Linked DNA regions of Homo sapiens. The protein of the gene in region 1 purifies or fractionates together with the protein of each later gene. This does not show direct contact. Each region holds a gene or a part of one and is shown in the gene's direction. Other genes may lie near its edges.

Region 1 (11,892 bases):
GCTTCAGGCGATCCTCTTGCTTTGGCCTACCAAAGTGTTAGGATTACAGGCATCAGCCACCATGCCTGGCCAGAGGGGACTTTTAGGCAGGTGCCCAGAGCTCTGTTGTTTGCTTCCTGCGTGTGACATCAGGCAGTCATATACCTCTGGGGTTCCTGCTAGTGAGGGGATGGGGAGGCATCTGCCTCTCCGGGCTTGGGGAGACGTGGCTGCCCCAGCTGTTATCACTCACTGTGCCTGTGACTGGAACTGGGCCTGGCAGTGGGTTTCCAGCTGATTTACCCGGGATGCTTTGTCCATTCAGTGCTTGTTGTCACATAGAGCTGCCTCCCTCTGTGTCCTCCTTATCTAAGTCTAACCTATCAGCCTCGGCCTCTTTACTTGTACCACTTACTTACCTGGCTCCAAGCTTTATTACAAGAAAGGACAGCAACCTTTTAAAAAATAATGATCCCTTCTTTGTAGGGCACCTTTCTTTTAAGTTAATGATGGCTATTTTGTATTTATTGGATCCCTTAGCACTTAGCTTTTTTGGGTGAGTCAGGAGTTCCTTCCCCCATCAAGAGGTGAAACTGGAGGCAGGTGGATGTCAGAGGCCCTGCTGTGTGCTTGCGGCAAAACCCAGTGGAGGTGGCTAGAGACCCAGCTTCCAGCCCTCCTCCCCTGCTCTGGGTTCAGGTTGCTGAAAGTGGTAGAACCGGTTATAGAGCTTCCGGGGAAGGGCTGGGTGGCTGCCAATTTATTATTCATTGTCTGATGTGGGCAATGAGGGGGTAACATTTAGTTCCCACTGTGGTTATCCTGGCAGTCTGCTTTAGTAATTCCTTCCCTTTCCCAGACTTGGTTTTTTAAGAGGAGGTGTTAGCAGGGAGGAGGAGAAATTGTGAAATAGTGGTCAGATCTCCTAGGGTCTGGATGGCACCTACTTCCTTCTGCTCCTCAGTGGGTCTGAAGTAATTGACATAGTTGAGGTTTCCGATTGTGTTTTGGTTGAGAACAAATGAATGTTTGCCAATTCATGCAACAGATATTTATTGTGTGCCTGCTGAATGCCAGGTGCTGTTCACTGTTCTGGACCCTGGGGAGAAGCAGAACTCCCTGCCTCCTAAGTACATCCACTTTATTTGTAAGGGGAACCCCCATACCTTCCTATACCCTTATGCTCTCATTTAAGGTATAGTTATAACCAGCTTATCTGTTTCTCTAGACCATACCAGAAAAGAAGCAGCAGATGAGCAGCACTTCTAGGGAAGGGCTGGCATCTGGCAGTCTAGTAGAGGCCAACTAAGGAAGTAATAGGAAAACTATTAAAAGAGTAGAATTTAAAATCCTCGCCACCTAGGGAAGCAAATGAAAAGCCTGACACCACTCTCCGTAGAACGTGTCATACTATTCAGTAGTTGATGTTCTGGATGATGATCCTGAGACATCAAAAACAGATTAAACTCAACCAGTCTAGGATGGAAAAAGGGTGGTAGACAGTGAGGTTTTTAGAAAGCCATCAGGAGAAAGACCAAGTTTCTGCAAATTGCAGTTCGAAGTACTCACGGAGCTTACATTTATCTGAGATCTTCGTCCTTCTGAGGCTGGGCCTTAGAAAGAGCTTCTCCTCTGAAAAGCCATGATCTGGATGGGGAACTTTGGGTTGGAAACATTTGAACTGTCACCTGGATCCTTTGTGAAGTCTCAGAAATGCAAGTGTTTCTAAGCGCTAGAGAGACCAGGGGATTTAGGGGAAACCTATAGGTAAAGAAGAAAAGCTGCAAGTGAAAAGCCACACCTTGCTGTGGCTGCTTCAGCTCTGCCTCAGTGATCCCAGCACCTGCAGACACAGTTTCTTTCTTTCTCTTTTTAGAGATGGGGTCTTGCTCTGTTGCCCAGGGTGGTCTCAAACTCCTGGGCTCAAGCGATCCTCCCGCCTCACCTTCCCAAAATGCTGGGATTACAGGCGTGAGCCACTGGACCTGGGCCAGAGTCAGTTTCTGGAGGAGCTTCCAACCCGGGATACCTGGCTTTCAGCAGTCCTGTTTATCCTATATCATAAGGAGTAAGATTATAGAGGATGGCCCTTCTATTTCTTGTTCTTCTGAAAGTTCCTCTCCTTCCCAATTTTGTGATAGTTATAAAAAATAATTGTTGTACATTTTTACCCTGAATCTAGCCTTTTGAGCTGTTCATAAGGTAGGATTATTTAATAATAAACAATATTGAGACCGGAAGGTTTTTCAAAGGCCTGCTTTAGGAGAGTTGTGTTTACATGGTGAGAAATTCTTCAGGCAGCAGTCAACTCCAGGAGGGCTGGACAAAGCTGGGAATCTAGTTTGTAGTACAAAGCACCAAATTCTAGGCCAACCGGTTCAAAGTCAAAACTGGTCTTCCAGGCTAAAACCAAGGGATGGGCCCTGCCCAGGGCAGGTTTAACAGTTAAATATAGTAATAACTAGTTAATCAAGACAGACATACTTGACCAACATTCTTAGGCCAGCTGGGTTTTGATTCAAGGCCACTCTGGAAGATCTCAGGCTACCTACCCATCCCTTCTACCCCTTGAATAAGAGTATTTCAGAGACCCTGGGAGTGAACCCAGGATTGAATTTTAGATCTACCCCACAGCAGACTCAAATCCAGCCCTGTCCACCTAGAGAATTCAAATGGAGTTGACCTGCATCCACTGTGGACCAGGGTCCATTCCTGAATTCCTGTCCAATTGGCATCCTGCTGGCCTGGTGTCACAGTTTACCCTCTTCCAGAAGTAGAGGAGAGAAAGGTTTGGGAACTTGTAGGAAGCACCTAGTTTTTGTCAGGTGCTTACACGGATCATTTTCTTTAATCCTTCCAGCAGCCCTGTGTGTAGGATTTATTCTTCTCAGTTTGATGTTGAAGTCCCTAAGGCTGTGTGAGCTTCAGTAATTTGCCCAAGGTCATGCTATCAGTATGTAGAAGATTCCGAATTTGAAAATACATCTGCCAGACTCCAGAACTTGCCCTCTTTTAGTGAACCATGCTGCCTCCTAGCTTAGAATTGTGGAAAGAAGCTAAACAATTTTGTTTTTGTTTCTTACCAGTTTTTTTCTTGTATCACTTGAAAAGTAATACAAGCTTATTATAGAAAGTAAATATCAGCTATAACCCTTTCAGCTGTTTATAAGGTAGGATTATTTAATAATAAACGATACTGAGACTGGAAGCTTTTTCGGGGATATCCCTTTTCTTTCAGAGATGTTGTTGTTGTTGTTGTTTTGTTGTTGTTGTTGTTATGGACTTTCACTCTTCCCTCCCAGGCTGGAGTGCAATGGCATGATCTCGGCTCACTGCAAGCTCCGCCTCCTGGGTTCAAGCGATTGTCCTGCCTCAGCCTCCTGAGTAGCTGGGATTACAGGCTCCCACCACCATGCCCAGCTAATTTTTGTATTTTTAGTAGCGACGGGGTTTCACCATGTTGGCCAAGCTGGTCTCCAACCCCTGACCTCAGGTGATCTGCCCGCCTCAGCCTCCCAGAGTGCTGGGATTACATGTGTAAGCCAACACGCCCGGCCCAGAGATATTTTTATATTTTTGTATTTCCATCTGTTGGGGATGAAAGTCCTAGCCTCCCTGTTTGGCTTTATCTGACACCACTCTGGCAGAGGTTTAGGGTAGCAAGAATGGAAGTCTATGCTCTCTACCTGGCCTTTGATGGCATGGGTGGGGTGGTGTCCACTGTTTTTTCTGTGGTAATTGGCTGGAGTAGAATAGTTTTTGCCTAAAGTAATGTTTGTATGGCTTTTCATTGAATGGATTTTGGGTATCATAATTAACCCTTATGTCACAGTTTCCTCATTTGTAAAATGAGGAGGATAATAATTTCTACCTCATAGGGGCTTTAAGAATTAAATAAGTTAATATATGTAAAGCATATTTGACAATATGAGTGGATTTTTCAGCTTGAATAATTTTATTTTCCTATTACAGTGAAAAACCAAAATTCCAATATAGAACATTCAAAATAAATTATGAAACACAAAAGAATATTTATCATTCCCTTAGAATAAAATTCAGAAAGCATTCTCTCAAAAAAAGGAAAGAAAATGAAGGAGATGCCACTGCTGGACACCCCTTCTGTCTTGCTTTCTTACTGCTCCTTCTTTTTTTTTTTGAGACAGAATTTTATTTTTGTCGCCCAGGCTGGAGTGCAGTGGTGCAATCTCGGCTCACTGCAACCTCCGCCTCCCAGGTTCCTGCCTCAGCCTCCCTAGTAGCTGGGACTACAGGCGTGTGCCACCACGCCCAGCTAATTTTTGTATTTTTGGTAGAGACGGGGTTTTACCACGTTGGCCAGGCTGGTCTCGAATTCCTGACCTCAACTGATTCGCCCGCCTCAGCCTCCCAAAATGCTGGGATTACAGGCGTGAGCCACCACACCCAGCCTGCTCCTTCTTCTTCACACTCACTTCTACTCCCCCTCTCAGATTTATAACAAGGAACATACAAACTTTTATTTTATTTTTTTGAGACAGAGCCTTACTCTGTCACCCAGGCTGGGGTACAGTGACACGATCTCAGCTCACTGAAGCCTCTGCCCCCCGGAATCAAGTGATTCTTCTGCCTCAGCTTCCCCCATAGCTGAGATTACAAGCATGCACCACCACACCCGGCTAATTTTTATATTTTTAGTAGATACAAGTTTCACCATGTTGGCCAGGCTGGTCTCAAACTCCAGACCTCAAGTGATCCACCCACCTCGGCCTCCCACAGCGATGGGATTAGAGGTGTGAGCCACCATGCCCAGCCTAAACCACTTTAAAAGAGCCCCATGATACAAAAGAAAACATCTTCCACAAAACCCCCCTACATCCCTGGGGCAAGCCTACTAGTCCTAGTCCTGAGGAAGTTCATCTTGAAGGTAGTGTTGCAGGTGATGCCATAGATACTGGGACATGGACCGCCTCCCCCTCCCTTCCTCTCACCCATCCCAGAGAGAGGGTGGAGATAGGATCAGAGAGGAGGGGCCCAGAGGCCAGGAACAAACACCCAACAGACTCCTGTCAGTGTGTGTAGGTGCTTTTATATGTGTTAATGAACCTTGATGTCAGAGGGCTGGGGAGATTGAGAAAGAACATCTTTATAATGTTTTTGGTATTGTTTTACTTATTGAAAAAAAGCAAACAGGGGCCCTGAAATATAAAATATGTTCAGTAAAGGAATGAGGCTGGAGGCACAATAAAGCAGGCAAAGAGAGCAAAAGAAAGAAAAGACGAATGATAAGGGACCTAAAAAGTAAAGATGATATATTGCAAAGATGACACTGTCTTAAGCTAGCACCTCCTTTCCCTTAATATTGTTCTTTTTTGTAGTGAAAACAGAGCTAGGCAGGGAGGGTTAGGGTGGGAGGTGAGCAGGCAGGGCAGATGTGCTTCGGTGGGCGATTGGGAAGGCAGGTGGCACGTCTACACCCTCTCTGCCCAGCGCCTGTCCTGGGTGGTTCCTGCTGCCTCCAAGGCAGTCAGGAGAACCAAACAGCTTGGGCTGCCATGGCAGGTGCCCTGGCTATGGCCCAGCAGGTGGCAGCACACCCCTAGAGGTCCTGGGCCCGGTGGCTGCCTCATGGATGGAGGAGTTGCCCAGCAGGTGCTCACCTTGTGGATGCTGGCTGCTTACCTCTGAAAGTCCTTATTTAGCACACTTGGGTGTAGAAGCGTTTCTTGCGTCCATCTTGGAAGCTTAGAAATCCAATCTGCTTAGCTCTTCCTCCAGGAGGTTTGAGCAGCAGGTAACACACACCAAGCAGAAGGGAGAAAGCAAAGGCCTTGGAGGCAGAGGACGGATTCTGGGGTTGTGTACACTGTCTTCACTTACAACAGCTATTAGGTAGCACACGAAAGAGAATCTTGGTAGCTGTGTTTATTTTTACTTATGTAAGAAATATTGGGGTTTCTTTCTTTCTATGTATTTAAGAGAGAGTCTTGCTCTGTCACCCAGGCTGGAGTGCAGTGGCATCATCATAGCTCACGGCAGCCTCAAAATCCTTGGCTGAGGTGATCCTCCCTCCTCAACCTCCTTAGTAGCTGGTACTGCAGGCACGCACCACTATGCCTGGCTAATTTTTTATTTTATTTTAATTTAATTTAAAATTTTTTTATTTTTATTTTTGAGACAAGGTCTCACTCTGTCACCTAGGCTGAAATGCAGTGGTGTGAACATGCTCACTACAGCTTCAACCTCCCGGGCTCCAGTGATCCTCCCACCTCAGCCTCCTGAGTAGGGGGACAAAGGCACATGCTACCACACCTGGCTCATGTTTAAAAAATTTTTGTAGAGATGAGGTCTTGCCATGTTGCCCAGGCTTGGCTGGAACTCCTGGGCTCAAGCGATCCTCTCGCCTCAACCGCCTGAGTAGCTGGGACTACAGGCATGCACCACCACACCTGACAAAAAAAAATTTTTTTTTTTTGAGACAGAGTCTCATTCTGTCTCCCAGGCTGCAGTGCAATGGTGTGATCTCGGCTCACTGCAACCTCTGCCTCCCAGGTTCAAGCGATTCTCCTGCCTCAGCCTCTCGAGTAGCTGGGACTACAGGCGCCCGCCACCATGCCTGGCTAATTTTTTTGTATTTTTAGTAGAGACGGGGTTTCACCGTGTTAGCCGGGATGGTCTCAATCTCCTGACCTCGTGATCCACCTGTCTCGGCCTCCCAAAGTGCTGGGATTACAGGCTTGAGCCACCGCACCTGGACTAAACTCAAAAGTTTATAATAAGATCTATGTCAGAACATGGATACCTCTGTCTACTATAATATTTTATTTAAAAAAAATTTTAATAAGCGTGGCAAATTCCTGAACAAACTTTTTGAAATTTATTTTTTATTATTTTTTTGAGACAAGGTCTCCCTCTGTCACTCAGGCTAGAGTACAATGGCATGATCTCGGCTCACTGCAACCTCCGCCTCTGGGGCTCAAGTGATTCTCCTGCCTCAGCCTCCCAAGTAGCTGGGTCTACAGGTGCACGCCACCATGCCCGGCTAATTTTTGTATTTTTAATAGAGACAGGGTTTTGCTTTGTTGGCGAGGCTGGTCTCGAACTCCTGACCTCAAGTGATCTGCCCACCTCAGCCTCCCAAAGTGCCAGGATTACAGGCATGAGGATTACAGGATTACATGCCAGGATTACAGGATTACACCATGTCTGGCCAATCATAATCTTTTTTTTTTTTTTTTTTTTTCTGAGATGGAGTCTCGCTCTTGTCCCACAGGCTGGAGTGTAGTGGCACAATCTTGGCTCACTGCAACCTCTGCCTCCTGCATGAATCAAGCGATTCTCATGCCTCAGCCTCCCAAGTAGGGGGATTACAGGGGAATATGTCATCACACCCAGCTAATTTTTGTATTTTTAGTAGAGATGGGGTTTCGCCATGTTGGCCAGGCTGGTCTCCTACTCCTGACCTCAAGTGATCCACCCGCCTCAGCCTCCCAAAGTGCTGTGATTACAGGCGTGAGCCACCATGTCCGGCCTCAATCATAATCTTTTATTTTATTTTTTATTTTATTTTATTTTATTTTATTTGAGACAGAGTCTTGCTCTGTCGCCAGGCCGGAGTGTAGTGGTGCGATTTCGGCTCACTGCAACCTCCGCCTCCTCGGTTCAAGCGATTCTCCTGCCTCAGCCTCCCAAGTAGCTGGGATTACAGCTGCCCGCCACTATGCCTAGCTAATTTTTGTATATTTAGTAGAGATGGAGTTTCACTATGTTAGTGAGGCTGGTCTCAAACTCCTGACCTCAGGTGATCTGTCCACCTCAGCCTCCCAAAGTGCTGGGATGACAGGCGTGAGCCACCGCACCGGCCAATCATAATCTTTTAAATGAGTCTCCCCGTTGATGGGGATCTTGGCTGGCTAGTATCAACAGTGTTGTAGAGAGCATCCTTGTATATTTATTTTTGCCATACTTCTACAAGTCCAGATTCCTAGGACTTGGGTCAAAGGGAAAGAACATTTTAAATTTTGATGGCTGAATTTTCTTCCAGATAGGTTGCCCCAGTTTATATGCCCACCAAGAATGTGTAGAGTACCTGTCTTCGAGTGGCTGTCGAGAAAGCGGGGTACTGTGCTCCTGCCTGTTGCAGCAGCCCCTGGACATCTGCAGTGGTGAGGTTGAGCACTTAGCAGGAGGTGGGCCCAGCTCCTGTGCTGGGCGACAGTGGCTCACTCCCTCCATGGCCTTGGCCTCCTCCATTGCCAGTCTCCCTGGTGGCTAGGAAGTGGGCGCCAGCAGCTTCTCTTTTAGGTGTGCATGGGATTCCCCTTACCCATTGAGCAAGGTTTTCCTGTTTGTCCCTGGGATGAGAGTGAATGGCCATGTCTTCTGTCTGACTCTTCCAGGTAAAGAAGGCGTATAGGCAGAAGGCCCTCTCCTGCCACCCAGACAAAAATCCAGATAATCCCAGAGCAGGTGAGACTCTTCTCAGGGCGTGGGGAGAAAGAAACCCACTCACCCGGGCATTGTGTTTCCCGATGTAAGCTCTGCATGTGAGTGCTGTGGGGTGTAAGCACACATTGCCTGGCTCCAGGCAATGGGTCCCAGGGCTTCCCTCCTGTGAGGGGTGTCTGGTCAGTTGCTGATATGCTCACCCCTCCTTGTTGGTCTGTCATCTGCTGATGTCGGCTTGTCTGCCATCCTGTGACTTCTTTGAAGATTTTTTTTTTTTTTGAGGGAGCACACCATTACGAAGTCTTAACTTTATTTTTCTTCTGTCTTTTTGATCCTTATGTTTAGCTGAACTCTTCCACCAGCTTTCTCAGGCCTTGGAGGTGCTGACCGATGCTGCAGCCAGGGTAAGCACAGCCTCCTTCATCGGAATCGTCCCCCATGGTTAGAGACCACTGCTGCCTCTCAACCTCGGTCCTCTGCCCTTTGCCATGTGGCACAGTCCTTGCTGTCTAAGCCCAGGAGACCCAGTCACCAGGCTGCCACTCTGATGGCTCGTGGGCTAGGGGCCAGGCAGATTGCCGGGGCTCTGTCTTTACTCTCTCACTGACCCTCTGCCCTGTGCCCCTTTCTCCTGCCAGGCTGCATATGACAAGGTCAGGAAAGCCAAGAAGCAAGCAGCAGAGAGGACCCAGAAACTTGATGAGAAAAGGAAGAAAGTGAAGCTTGGTAGGTGCCATCATAGTGCTCGGTGGCCTGTGGTTTCCTGTGGTCATTTTCATTCATCTCCCTCACCTGAAGCTTCACTTCCAGCAACTCATCTCAAAGCCTTTTGGCTCAGGCTCTGGGCAAAACGCTGTTCTTAGAGGTTGGTTCCTAAAGACACTCTTAGGAATAATAACAATAATAAGGTTTAATATTAGCTAAGCATTGTGACAAATGCCTTATTGTCCCTTTAATTATCATAACTATACAAGGAAGTGTGGGTACTAAACCTTTTTTAAGAACATGGTTTTTTGAGACAGGGTCTCACCCTGTCACCTAGGCTGGAGCGCAGTGGCATGATCTCGGCTCACTGCAACCCCCACCCTCTGGGTTCAGGCGATTCTTGTGCCTCAGCCTCACGATAGTGGGACTACAGGCATGCACCACTACGCCCGGCTAATTTTGTTCCGTTTTTTTAGAGATGGAGTTTCACCATGTTGGCCAGGCTGGTCTTAAACTCCTGGCCTCAAGCTATCCACCTCAGTCTCCCAAAGTGCTGGTATTACAGCTGGTGAGCTGCCGCACCTGGCCTCTGAAGCCATTTTTTATAGGCAAAGGAGCTAAGGCACCAAAAGTTTAAGAGCTTGCTGGAGGTGGGATTTAAACTTATCCAGTGTGAGTAAAATTGGTGCTTGTGGCCGGGCGCGGTGGCTCACGCCTGTAATCCCAGCACTTTGGGAGGCCGAGGCGGGTGGATCACGACGTCAGGAGTTCGAGACCAGCCTGGCCAAGATGGTGAAACCCCTTCTCTACTAAAAATACAAAAATTAGCTGGGTGTGGTGGCGGGTGCCTGTAATCCCAACTACTCGAGAAGTTGAGGCAGAGAATTGCTTGAACCCGGGAGGCAGAGGTTGCAGTGAGCTGAGATCACGCTGCTGTGCTCTAGCCTGGGTGACAGAGCAAAACTCCATCTCAAAAAACAAAACAAAACAAAAAAATTGGTGCTTGTATTCACCATTTCTGGCTGAGTCTTCTTCTTCTTTTTTTTTTTTTTAAAGAAAGACGGGGTTTTGTACTGTCACCCAGGCTAGGGTGGCACCATCATGGCTCACTGCAGCCTCAAACTCCTGGGCTCAAGCAGTCCTTCTGCCTTGGCCTCCTGAGTAGCTGGGACTACAGGTGCGAGCCGCTGTGCCCGGCTGGGTCTTTTAATTTGTTCTAACCCCAATTCCTACCCAGACTTTTCACTTTGAGAAGCTCCCTCAGAAGGATTCAAAGAGGTCCAGGCTTTCTCTTCTCTAATAGCTTTATTGAGGTATTCTTTGTATATCACAACATCAACCCATTTCAAGTGTACACTTCAATGATTTTTCGTAAATTTACTAAATGATGCAACTCTGACTATAAATCAGATTTGGAACATTTTCATCAACCCAATAAGATTGCTGCAAGCATTTTTTTTTTCTCACTTAAAAAAAAGTCACTGGTTATAGCAGCATGGTCCAAGCACTCTTTTTTTTTTTTTCTTAAACGGAGTTTCGCTCTTGTTGCCCAGGCTGGAGTGCAGTGGCACGATCTCGGCTCACTTCAACCTCTGCCTCCTGGGTTCAAGCGATTCTCCTGCCTCAGCCTCCCGAGTAGCTGGGACTAAGTTGCGCACCACCACACCCGGCTAATTTTTGTATTTTTAGTAGAGACGGAGTTTTGCCACATTGGCCAGGCTGGTCTCGAACTCCTGACCTCAGGTGATCCACCCCTCTTGGCCTCCCAAAGTGCTGGGATTACAGGCGTGAGCCACCGCGCCTGGCCCAGTCCAAGCATTCTTTACTCAAGTTTCTCCTTTTCCTCTTGCTCTTCAACATCCATATATTTTAATATGTGCATATAGCATCCCAATATCTATTTCTATATTAAAAGAAAAGCAAGTGCCAGGAGACCCCATCTCAAAAAAAAAAAAAAAAAAAGAGAGAGAGAGAAAAGGAGAGTCTAAGTAAGTAAAGTGCACAAACTTCTCTGGACTAAGAGAAGGGTTTCTCACAGCAGCTGGCCTGGCACATGGTTGCAAGCAGGTTTCTCTTGGAAGGTAACGCCCTCACACAATCCAGGACCCGGGGTGATGCCCTAACACTCTGCCCATCCCTGTAGCCAGGTCCACAGTGAGGCTTGGTAAATGTGAGTTGAGGTGGGAGGTAAAGGAGACAGTGAGAACCTGAGCTCAGTGTGTGAAAAGAATCAAAGCCAAAGCAAGTCAAGCTGTGGTGCCAAACCACAGGAATCGAGCCCAGCAGCTCCGCCCATTGGCACCCCTGACACATGGCCCTGGGCTGCTGACATAAGCACCACCCACACCCTGTTCACTAGAGAGAACCAGCTTGGTCAGTGTGAGCTGTTTTTAACTCTTCCAGACCCCTGGCCACTCTGCTAGACCCCATACTTCTGTGCTGTGATTTTTCTCAATGGAAATTGACTCGGGGGCGTGGGCATGGAGGGAGGGGGCAGAGTTACTGTATGATCTCGTCGTGATTGAGACTTTGGGGAGGCAGCCAGAGCTGGGGTGGGCCGAGGCCACATGGAAACTGAACAGACCAGCAGTCTGGTCATTCAACCCTTGTGTCTAGACCTGGAGGCCCGGGAGCGGCAGGCCCAGGCCCAGGAGAGTGAGGAGGAAGAGGAGAGCCGGAGCACCAGGACACTAGAGCAAGAGGTGAGCACTCAGGCACACTGGCCAGAAGGCCACCTGCAGGAGGAGGAGGTGGGGGAGGATGGACCTGGTGGTCGCCGTGGCT
Region 2 (11,892 bases), on another chromosome or scaffold:
TACACACTTGTTTAGCCAACTGGAGGGATAAACTCCTTGTCTATAGTATATGGGATACTTAAGGTATAAATTATGTTCACACAAAGGAAATTTCATGTATGTGGCTTTACCATACAATCTTGCTAGGTATATACAGCTTACTTGTTAATGAGCCTCCCAACTATTTATAGCTCTAGGTTTCACTCTAAGGTTTTGGCAACTCAGGTTTTTAGTGCTGTTCTTTGGGGGCTTTTTACTCTTTTTTTACTCTCCTTTTTCTGGTTCTAGGTACACTCTTCAGTTCCAGCTTAAAGTTGTTTCCTCCACAGCCCTCTGTATTGCTTTTAGTGGCTCTTTCAATGTCTGGCTGTTTTCAAAAGCACTGTCAAATTTTGCTTTTGTTTTCCCCCCACCTGCTGGCAGTCTGCTGCCTCTTAGATCATTCAACTCTTTTTTTTTTTTTTTTTTAAGACAGTGTCTTGCTCTGTTGCTCAGGCTGGAGTGCAGTGGCATGATCTCGGCTTACTGCAACATCCGACTCCCTGGTTCAAGTGATTCTCCTGCCTCAGCCTTCCGAGTAGCTGGGATTACAGGCACGCACTACCATACCCAGCTAATTTTTGTATTTTTAGTAGAGACGGGATTTCACCATGTTGGCCAGGATGGTCTCGATCTCCTGACCTGGTGACCCGCCTGCCTCAGCCTCCCAAAGTGCTGGGATTACAGGTGTGAGCCACTGTGCTCGGCTTTTTTTTTTTTTTTTAGTTGAATTTACTATTCTTCACATTTCCTCCTTGTTGGTCTTATTTCTCTAGAAAACTTCTTCATTTCCTTTGCTGTAAATGTCCTCTCTCTCCTTCCCCATCATAGTTCATCTTGGCCTTTAGTCTTTATTTGGCTATGGCCCTCCCGTTACCAGTCTTATTTTGCACTAATCCTGTGGGACTTCTTTAAGCAAAAATTGAAGGAAGGACTTTATTTGTTTTGTTGTTTTAATATGGAACTCTTCATGAATTTGCATGTCATCCTTGTGCAGGTGCCGTGCTAATATTCTCTTTATCTTTCCAGTTTTAGTATATGTGCTGCTGAAGTGAGCACTGTTTAGTTTTAACTACACATATCAGATACGCATTTTGAAATTCTGTTGTAGATTTTAACATGAGCCTGACTTATGCAGTTCTTGGTATAGTTTGTAGATTTGGATTAAGGGCATTACTGTAGATATTTGGCAGCCATTTTACTATATGAATTTAGTGCCAGGAAAGGAAAGAGCAGCTAAGGTACTTGGGTTATTTCTGTGAAATAGATTTTTTGGATCCAGTAGGAGGATCAAGCAGTGAACTTGGTAGTGAACATGTGATAGTGAGCTTGAAATACTGGTAGGACATCCAACATATAGTTGGAAGTGAGAGTTATTATTATTATTTTTTGAGATGGACTTTCGCTCTTGTTGCCCAGACTGAATTGCAATGGCATAGTCTTGGCTCACTGCAACCTCTGCCTCCCGGATTCAAGCGATTCTTCTGCCTCAGCCTCCTGAGTAGCTGGGGTTACGGGTGTGTGCCACCATGCCCGGCTAATTTTGTATTTTTTAGTAGAGACAGGGTTTCACCATGTTGGTCAGGCTGGTCTCGAAATCCTGACCTGAGGTGATCCAGCTGCCTCAGCCTCCCAAAGTTCTGGGATTACAGGCATTAGCCACTGTGCTGGTCCGAGAGTTCTTTCTAGAGTATCAGTGTTGAAGAGTATAGGCTTTGGAGAGTTGGTCCCATAATGATGAAAAATAGAGCTGAGAAGAGGATCAAATTATTAAGGAAGAAATACAATCAGAAGGGAAGCAGGTTGATGATAGTACCTTGGTGGGTGGGGATGGTATATCTTCATCTAGGGGGTAGGAACAAAGACATAAAAGTGCTTAGAGGACTGTTTGAGAGGTAAAGATATTGTCAACTTCATGGAATCTACTGAAGATAACATAGTTTCAGGAGAACATTGGCAAATATAGGGTGACCTTTAAGAGAGTGATGGGAGAGGGAAACTGATTGCAGGGGGTTAAGGAACTAATAAAGTAGGCTGGGCGTGGTGGCTCACACCTGTAATCCTAGCACCTTGGGAGGTCGAGGTGGGCAGTTCACGAGGTCAAGAGGTTGAGACCATCCTGGCCAACATGATGAAACCCCATCTCTACTAAAAATAGAAAAATTAACTGGGCATGGTGGCGGTCACCTGTAGTCCCAGCTACTTGGGAGGCTGAGGCAGGAGAATCACTTGAACCCGGGAGGCGGAGGTGGAGGTTGCAATGAGCCAAGATTGCGCCACTGCACTCCAGCCTGGCAACAGAGCGAGACTCCATCTCAAAAAAAAAAAAAAAAAAAAAAAAAGGTAAAGCACTTAGCATGGATGACTCTTCAGAAATTCAAAACTGAAGAGGAGGAAGTTTCTTAGTATGTGTGTTCATTTTGGATGGCGATGATTGAGCATATTTTTTTCTGAACAAAAAGCGCCAGCTGAGTAGACTCAGTAGATGAAAGGGAAGTGAAAATTGATGGAGCAAGGTCTTGAAGGCAACAGGAGGGAATGGAAACAAGGCCACAAGCCAGGAATAACCATAGAAGAGAGTGGCGTCTTAAATTTTTCCTAAACACTTGTTCTTTCCAAATGTTTTCCTTCACTTGGAAGTTGCTGCCTGCCTCCAAGTAGCTGGGACTACAGGCACACGCTGCCATGCCTGGCTAATTTTTTGTATTTTAGTAGGGATGGGGTTTCACTATGTGCATCTTTTCTAGACTGTAGCTTCCTTAGAACTGTATTTTTCTTCGCATTGCCTTTTCCTGTGTCCAGATGTCTGCATTTAAGTCCATGTAGAATCTTCTCTAGAACGCAGAAAGCCTTTTCCCTAATCTTCTCTTCCCAACTTTTTCCAGTAATATTTGTAAGGCACCTGGCATAAACATACTGGCCCGTGGGCTCCAGCAGCCTCCACGTAGGGCTGTTCATATTTACTGAGCAGGAATACTGTTGTAGCCATTCACCATTGATGCCTAGCAGCCAGAAGGGAGCTGCTGGAGAGTTTACACTTCAGACATGTAAAATGGCAGGGACATAGGAGAGTCATGGGAGATTCATCCCCCTATTGATGGCTTTTCATTCTGCAATTCTGACTAAAATTTGTTCATTTTTCTTTGAACCCAGGTCGTAAAGGTATCTTCACTGGAAGCTCGGGGCTGCAGATTGTGTACCTCAGTGGGACAGAATCCTTAAATGAGCCAGTACCAGGTTATAGTTTTAGTCCCAAGGATGTGTCTTCTCTGAGAATGATGCTGTGTACAACCTCCCAGTTTAAGGGTGTTGATATCTTGCTCACATCCCCATGGCCCAAGTGTGTGGGGAACTTTGGGAATTCTTCTGTGAGTAGTGTTTGTTTAGTTGGAATTTCTAAAAGCAAATTGCACTGGCTTGAGTTGGGACTTTTTTCTTTTCCTGTTTATATTGAGTATTTTAGCTCTTGGGTACCTTTTATTAGAAGTCTTCTGTGAAAATTTTCAGGATTCTAAAAGTTCTGTCAACTGATCAAAGCAAAAGTTAATTTCATGAAAGTGTGATTCATAGATGAGACTGCTGAAATCTTAATTATAAAGGAATGGTTTTTTATATTCTCTGCTTCAAGTGCCCTTTCCTAAGCCTCTTAATGTTTTGAGGCTTCACTGATTTTTTTGTTTTTTGTTTTTTGTTTTTTTTTGAGATGGAGTCTCACTCTGTCGCCCAGGTTGGAGTGCAGTGGTGCGATCTTGGCTCACTGCAACCTCCTCCTCCCGGGTTCAAATGATTCTCCTGCCTCAGCCTCCTGAGTAGCTAAGATTATAGGCATGCGCCACCACGCCTGGCTAATTTTTTTTTTTTTTTTTTGAGATGGAGTTTTGCTGTGTCACCCAGGCTGGAGGGCAGTGGCGCCATCTCTGCTCACCACAACCTCTGCCTCCTGGGTTCAAGCAATTCACCTGCCTCAGCCTCCCAAGTAGCTGGGACTATAGGCGCACACTGCCATGCCTGGCTAATTTTTTGTATTTTATTAGAGATGGGGTTTCAGCATGTTGCCCAGGCTAGTCATGAACTCCTGAGCTCAGACAATCTGCCTGCCTCGGCCTCCCAAAGTGCTGGGATTACAGGCGGATTTTTTTGTATTTTTAGTAGAGATGGGATTTCACCATGTTGGCCAGGCTGGTCTCAAACTCCTGACCTCAAGTAATTTGCCCACCTCAGCCTCCCAAAATGCTGGGATTACAGGCATGAGCCACCGTGCCCAGCCTAATTTTTGTATTTTTAGTAGAGACAGGGTTGCCCAGGCTGGTCTTGAACTCCTGCGCTCTAGTGATCCACCCGCCTTGGCCTCCCAAAGTGCTGGGATTACAGGCGTGAGCCACCATACCTGGCCAGATTTTAATATTTTATGAGTAATCTTGAAAAGGATGGTACACCAGGAGTGACAACTATCATGGGGAGTGAAACGCTACACTGGTGGAAGTAAGCCTAAGGAAGATTTTGAAAAGGTTATGTGTGAGGGCAGAAAACACTGGGTGAGCTTCATTGAAGGGAAATGTAAGAATGCATTTGGGAACAAATCTCCATGGTTGGATTCAGGATTATCAGTGATGATCCAGAAGTGGAGCCTGTATACCACCCCTTGCCAGTTTCAGCACCATGTGTCCATGACCAAAAAGGCCAACAGGATACCAGGCATTATCAAGGAGGATGCTCTCTTCCTTTTTGACAAACCCATGATTACTCTTTACGTAGAATACAAGGCATAGAGCTGGTTGGAGCACAAGGATATAGCAAAGCTAGGGAAGATCGAGAGAAGGGCTGCTAAAGTGATGAAGGAAGAGAGAAAGACACATATGATGCTCTGTAAGGAAGGATGAGAAAATGAGGCCCCTTTGTTTTGCGGGGAGCTAAAAATTGATTTTGATCAAGGCTTATAAATAACCATACAGTATATTTATGGAGGAGAAAAGTATAGTTCACCAGTCCCTAAGATGCTAGGACTGACCTCAAAGCTAATTCCCTGCCCTTCAGCAGAAACCTGAAGGAAACAAGCATAAGACAAAAGGAAATTCCTGCTTTACGTAGTGGAAAACAAACTTTGTTAGCTTATTTCCAAGTAATACCTTCTCTTAGAATAGAGTTCATAAATAATGCTGTGGGTGAGAGATCACTTAATTGGTTGTTAACAGAATCTGGGGATGTTCTGGGAGCAAGAATAACTTTGAGCAAACTTCATATTACTTAAGAAGGGTGTGGTTATGCCCTTCCTCAAACTGCCACTTCCTTGACTGAAGCAAAATAAAGGATTATATGCTGGTGATGAAGTCCTTGAATACTCTATACCAGATATTCTGTGGATCCTAGGAGCCCTGAAGCCTAGCTTTTCGCTTTGATTTTCTGAATTGACTATGACTGTCTGGACCCGTGAACTACAGATGCACTACGTAACAAACTAGAGGCTGGGCGCAGTGGCTCACGCGTGCACTTTGGGAGGCTGAGGCGGGCGGATCACGAGATCAGGAGTTTGAGACCAGCCTGGCCAACATGGTGAAACCCCGTCTCTACTAAAAATACAAAAATTAGCCAGGTGTGGTGGCACGTGCCTGTAATCCCAGCTACTAGGGAGGCTGAGGCAGGAGAATCACTTCTTGAACCCAGGATGCAGAGGTTGCAGTGAGCCGAGATTGTGCCACTGTACTCTAGCAGCCTGGGTGACAAAGCAAGACTCCATCTCAAAAAAAAAAAACAAACCAAAACTAGAAGCCCAGTCTGTGGGCTCCAGAGGGAGAGCTTACTTTCCAAAAAAGGTTTTAATAATTTGTGTTTTGGGTATTGATATGGAGGAGTTACCTTTTAATCTCTGGCTTCCAACAGTTGTTCCTATTTCTACATTCATAGTAGTTCAGCTCCCTTATTTGTTAAGATTTTTTCTCTGATTGCCATACTTATGAAATTCAATGTGCAGTTCCTTCTGTCCACATCTGTATTCATGTATAAATTTCAAAGACATTTCAAAATGTCTTATTATTTATTTGCATTTCTTGATAACTTTTGGTCTGTATGGATGACTAAGTTTTTGTTTACTAGGGAGAAGTGGATACCAAAAAATGTGGTTCTGCTTTGGTTTCCAGTCTTGCCACGGGCTTGAAACCAAGATACCATTTTGCTGCTTTGGAAAAGACCTATTATGAGAGGCTTCCATATCGGTGAGTAGCATTTCATTCTTCTTGGCTTTTTGAAGAATTTGCCATGGATCTTCTGTATAAACTTCTCTTGTTCGTTTTTAACCATATAACATCTTGGTTCCATTTGGTTACTCAGACACTGAAGTAAGTGACTCTCAAGTCATTCATCTTCTCTGAGTTTGTTCCCTAATTTGAAATCACTTTGGAAATCCTTCAGTTTCAGAATCAAGAACTTGTATCAGTTTTTTCCTTTTCAGGGCCAGGCATGATGGTGTGTGTCTGTGGTTCCAGCTACTTGGAAGGCTGAGGCAGGAGGCTCGCTCGAGCCCAGGAGTTCAAGACTATAGTGTGCAATGACTACGCCTGTGAATAGCCACTGCACTCTAGCCTGGGCAACATAGGGAGCCCCATTTCTTTAAAAAATTTTTTACCACAAATAAATATGAGATAATGTATATGTTAATTAGCTTGATTTAGCCATCCCACAGTATATACACATTTCAAAACAGCATGTTGTATACAATAAAAAATACAAATTTTAGTTATCAATTAAAAATAAATGAGAGGGAAAATTTAAAAAATTTTTTTTTGTCTTTTTTTTTTTTTTGAGACGGAGTCTCGCTCTGTCACCTGGCTGGAGTGCAGTGGCATGATCTCGGCTCACTGCAACCTCCGCCTCCTGGGTTCAAGTGATTCTCCTGCCTCAGCCTCCTGAGTAGCTAGGATTACAGGTGCGTGCCACCACGTCCGGCTAAGTTTTTTTGTATTTTTAATAGAGACGGGGTTTCACCATGTCAGTCAGGCTGGTCTTGAACTCTTGATCTCATGATCTGCCCACCTCAGCCTCCCAAAGTGCTGGGATTACAGGCGTGAGCCACCATGCCCAGCCAAGAAAATATTTTTTTTTATTTTTTTTCTTTTGCACTCAGAGGTGGAGTTTTTATTTTTTTAATTTTTGGGGGTACATAGTAGCATAGTAGGTATATAGAGGTCAAGTTCTTTTTTTTGAGACAGAGTCTTGCTCTGTCGCCCAGGCTGGAGTGCAATGGCATGATCTCGGCTCACTGCAACCTCCGTCTCCCAGGTTCATGCCATTCTCCTGCCTCAGCCTCCTGAGTAGCTGGGACTACAGGCGACCGCCACCACACCTGGCTAATTCTTTGTATTTTTAGTAGAGACAGGGTTTCACCGTGTTAGCCAGGATGGTCTCGATCTCCTGATATAGAGGTCAAGTTCTTAAAGAATATACTGCCAAGAAAACCAGTGTTTTACAAGTGAGAGAGTTAAGTAAAAGCTCAGAATTATCTTCACTGATAAAGGGCATGGATTATCCCTAAAATAACTTCTTTCCCTTCTTTTTTACAAAAGTAATATTTACGTGTTGCTAGTTAAAAAAATTTAAGTGAGCAAGAAGAGAATACCCCCCTTACCATAATCCCACAGCCTAATGCAGAATCATAGGTAATACAGGTTTTTCTGTTAAATCTCCATATACTCATTCTAGAAGAATGTCTTGTTCTCTAAAAATATACTGCGAAAACAGAAGTTTTGGGAACAAGCCACTCAAAACTTACACAGTTCTTAAGAATCGGAATACAGTTTTTCATAGAACATATAAAAATGGCCAATAGGGCTGGGTGTGGTGGCTCACGCCTGTAATCCCAGCACTTTGGGAGGCCGAGGCAGGCAGATCATGAGGTCAGGAGATCGAGACCATCCTGGCCAACACGGTGAAACCCTGTCTCTACTAAAAATACAAAAAATTAGCTGGGCATGGTGGCGGGCGCCTGTAGTCCCAGCTACTTGGAAGGCTAAGGCAGGAGAATGGCATGAACCCGGGAGGTGGAGCTTGCAGTGAGCAGAGATCGCGCCACTGCACTCCAGCCTGGGCAACAGAGTGAGACTCCGTCTCAAAAAAAAAAAAAAAAAAAAAAAAGGCCAATAGACATATAAAAAGATGCTCTTATCATTAGCCATTATGGTAATGTAAATCAAAAGCACAATGATACACCACTTCATACCCACTAGGATGGCAGTAGTCAAAAAGGCAAATACATAATAACAAGTGTTGACAAGGATGTGGAGGAATTGGAATCCTCACACATTGCTGGTGAGAGTGTAAAATGGTGCAGCCGCTTTGGAAAACTGTTTAGCAGTTCTTGAAAGGTTAAATGTAAGAGTCAGCAGCATGGTAACGGCAATTTTATTCCTGTCCCAAGATAAGGGAAAACATATGTCCACACAAAAACTTGTACACAGATGATCATAATAGCATTATTCATAATAGCTCAAAATGCAAACAACCCAAATGTCCATCACCTGGTGAATGGGTAAATTAAAAGTGGTAAATATATGATGAAATGTTATTTGGCAAGGAAAAGCAATGAAGTACTGACATGTGCTACAACATGGTTGAACCGTGAAAACTTTATGTTAAGTGAATGAAGCCAGACACAAAGGACTACATTTTTTTTTTTTTTAATTTTTTTTTTTTGAGACAAGATCTCATTCTGTCTTCCAGGCTGGAGTGCTGAGGTACTATCAAGGCTCACTGCAGCCTCAACCTCGTGGGCTCAAGTGATTCTCCTACCTTAGCCTCCTGAGTAGCTGGGACTGTAGGTATGCACCACCATGCCCAGTTAATTAAAAAATTTTTTTTGTAGAGACAGAGTCTCACTGTGTTGCCCAGGGTGTTCTCAAACTCCTGGGCTCAAGCAGTCCTCCTGTCTCAGCCTCCCAAAGTGCCTGGCCTATTTTAGCTTTTTATTACACAAAAGAAGAGGCAATAGTAAAGTGAAACCTCATGTGTCCATCACTTAGCTTGAACTATTGTCAACATTTTGCCAATTTTACAACTCTTTTAAAGCCAAAAGTTGGAGTTTTGATGGTTTCTGAAGACATAATCTCATCTCTTCCTAAAACAGCCTTGTGAGGTAGGGATTGTTGCCCTATTAGACGGATAGATAGTAACTTATCTGAAATCATTTGACTGGCGATGATGAACTGAGGACCTCTGCTCTTTTTATGGCCCCATAGAGTCCACATATTTTGTCATTGCAAATCAAAAGTAAAATTGTTTGCAATTTTTTGTCTCTCAAATATGTTGTAGAAACCATATCATTCTACAGGAAAATGCACAGCATGCCACCCGGTTTATAGCTCTGGCAAATGTTGGAAATCCAGAAAAGAAAAAGGTAAAGATTTACCTATTTGGTGGAAGGTTGATATTCATGGTCTGCCTGATAAATGTATCTCTTGTCCAGTTTAGCATTCAGATCTTCTCTTCTCCCTGACTGCAAGGTCTCAGCAGTTTCGGAGACTCCTTTGTAAAGGTATGGTAATGAAAGGTCAAGTCTCTTTGGGTCTTTTTGTAGGAGAGTTTAAAGAAGGGTTTGGGAAAATAGGCCCAGAGGAATAAAGGCAAAATATCAAATGAACAGTGTTCCTTTACTTCCACATCTATGTGGTTGTCTCTATGGGTATTTGTGAATTTGCCCTCAGATGCTTGCTTACTTCTTTAGCAACTTCATTTAGCTGAAATAAGAAAACCCCAAAGAGCTGGGCATGGTGGCCCACGCCTGTAATCCCAGCACTTTGAGAGGCTGAGGTGGGCGGATCACTTGAGGCCAGGAGTTTGAGACCAGCCTGGCCAACATGGTGAAACCCCATCTCTATAAAAAATAAAAAAAATTAGCCAGGTGTGGTGGGGGGCACCTGTAATCCCAGCTACTCAGGAAGCTGAGGCAGGAGAATTGCTTGAATGTGGGAGGTGGAGACTGCAGTGAGCTGAGATCGGGCCACTGCACTCCAGCCTGGGTGACAAAGTGAGACTCTGTCTCGGGAAACAAAAAAAAAGAAACCCAGAGGACTTACCTAAGCTCTCCTTAGGGCTAAGATTTCCTGAGGGAAATCTTAGTGATACCTGGAATCTATCTTTGTATTGGAAAACAGTGCAGTTGATGAAAAGAATATACCAGAAAAATAGGTTGTTTTTCTCACTTCTCTGAGAGTATTTCTGATTTCCCAGGGCCAAAACTAACCTATTGTGGATTGAGACAGCTAAAATAAGAACAGTTAGTGAAGTGGGAAAATAGGCAGATAAAGAGTCTGAAGATTATTCCACTATCACATGCCATAGACAATGCATACAAAAGATAAGCAAATCGATATTTTGTTTTTTTCATAATATTTCAAGCTTTTTTTGGGGGAGGGGGCGGATCTGAAGTGATTTTGCCTTTATTTCCTTCACTTTAAGCCAATCATGAAATTTCATAGTGATTTCTAGGGTTGGGGCAGAAGGAAGACAGTGTTAAGAATCATCAGGGCTGTGGCCCAGTTGGCCTGCGGAGGTGCAGGCAGGGTGGCCCCTCAGGGGCAGCTGGAGGAGCATGGACTGCCCCGCTGGCAGGGAGCTGATGTTCCCAGAGTATAAGAGCTGGAATGTGATGTCCTCCACAGCTTCCAGCTTGCGCAGCTCTATCAGGCTGTTCCCTGCGGTGGCCAGTGAGTTGGCGATCAGCTCTGCTGCCTTGGAATCGCCCTCAGCAGAGATGATGGCTGCCTTTTTCTGCTGCTCAGCCTTTTCTGCCACAAATCTGGTGCTCTCTGCTTCCCGCTGAGCCACCTGTTTGGCTTCCACTGCTTCTGTGAACTCCTTCCCGAAGGTCAGATGTGTCAAGGACACGTCATCCAGGATGAGCCCAAAGGTGGCTGCTTGCTCTGTAAGGTCGTTGCTCATCTGCCTGGAGACCAGCTCTCTTTAGGTGATTAGTTCTCCAGCATCAAAGTGAGCCACCACTGACTTGAGGATCTCAGTAGTGATGGACAGCAGCACACGCTTATCATAATCCTCTTCAATGCTGGTCAAGATGCGAGGAAGCTGGCTAGCGACAGGCCCCCATGTGCACCGTGATGTTGACATTCTGTAAATCTTTGCTATCAGTGATGACTGGCACATTACATGGTCAAGAACAGCAGTCAAAGATAATAGGTTTGTGTACCCATGGAATGAGAAAGTGAGTCCCTTCCCGTACCACAGTGTTCTGTACTCCATGGAATCGGTCAAAGATGACAGCTCTTTGCTCAGCATCCACATTATATAGGGCAGAGTTCACCACGTCTCCTGCAACAGCTAAGGCCAGGCCAAACTTGCCAACGGACTCAAAACACTTTGGCAGCCATGTTTTCTTCTGCTGGACCCTTTCATACCTGCTTCCACTCTGACCTCCACATAAATTCCCCAGCCTATTTTCAGCTTTTTTGCCCAATTCTTAGCAAATGTAGATTTGTAATTTTTCTTTTAATTGCCCTTTCAAACTGAATAACACTTAGTATTTTCAGTCTGTTTTATTCTCAGGGACATGTTAGCCTCAGCCATAAGCAACTTATACTTTCGTCAAAAGGTGTGCACATTATAAAATTTGGCAAGCATTGTTAAATTCATCTAAAAACTTTGTTCCAATTTATACCCCTACCCCAGCAGTGTTTTTTTTTTTCCCCCTCCATATTTCTCACTGGATCAAGTCAAAGTTTTTGTTTGTTTGTTTAAGATGGAGTCTCTGTCTATTGCCCAGGCTGGAGTGTAGTGGCACGATCTCGGCTTACTGCAACCTCCACCTCCCATGTTCAAGCGATTCTCCTGCCTCAGCCTCCTGAGTAGCTGGAACTATAGGTGTGTGCCACCATG

What was found.
Region 2: the proteins of DNAJC17 (region 1) and CWF19L1 purify together in Homo sapiens (affinity purification with mass spectrometry; 2 studies listed by BioGRID and IntAct, with this or other methods). This does not show direct contact.

Annotation. Positions count from the first base shown.
Region 1 is NC_000015.10:40,776,460-40,788,351, reverse strand, and holds part of DNAJC17 (dnaJ homolog subfamily C member 17), read left to right. Parts: intron 1-8,354; coding exon 8,355-8,424; intron 8,425-8,748; coding exon 8,749-8,807; intron 8,808-9,041; coding exon 9,042-9,129; intron 9,130-11,724; coding exon 11,725-11,810; intron 11,811-11,892. UniProt on the Homo sapiens protein: May negatively affect PAX8-induced thyroglobulin/TG transcription.
Region 2 is NC_000010.11:100,247,756-100,259,647, reverse strand, and holds part of CWF19L1 (CWF19-like protein 1), read left to right. Parts: intron 1-3,171; coding exon 3,172-3,386; intron 3,387-6,108; coding exon 6,109-6,227; intron 6,228-9,315; coding exon 9,316-9,400; intron 9,401-11,892.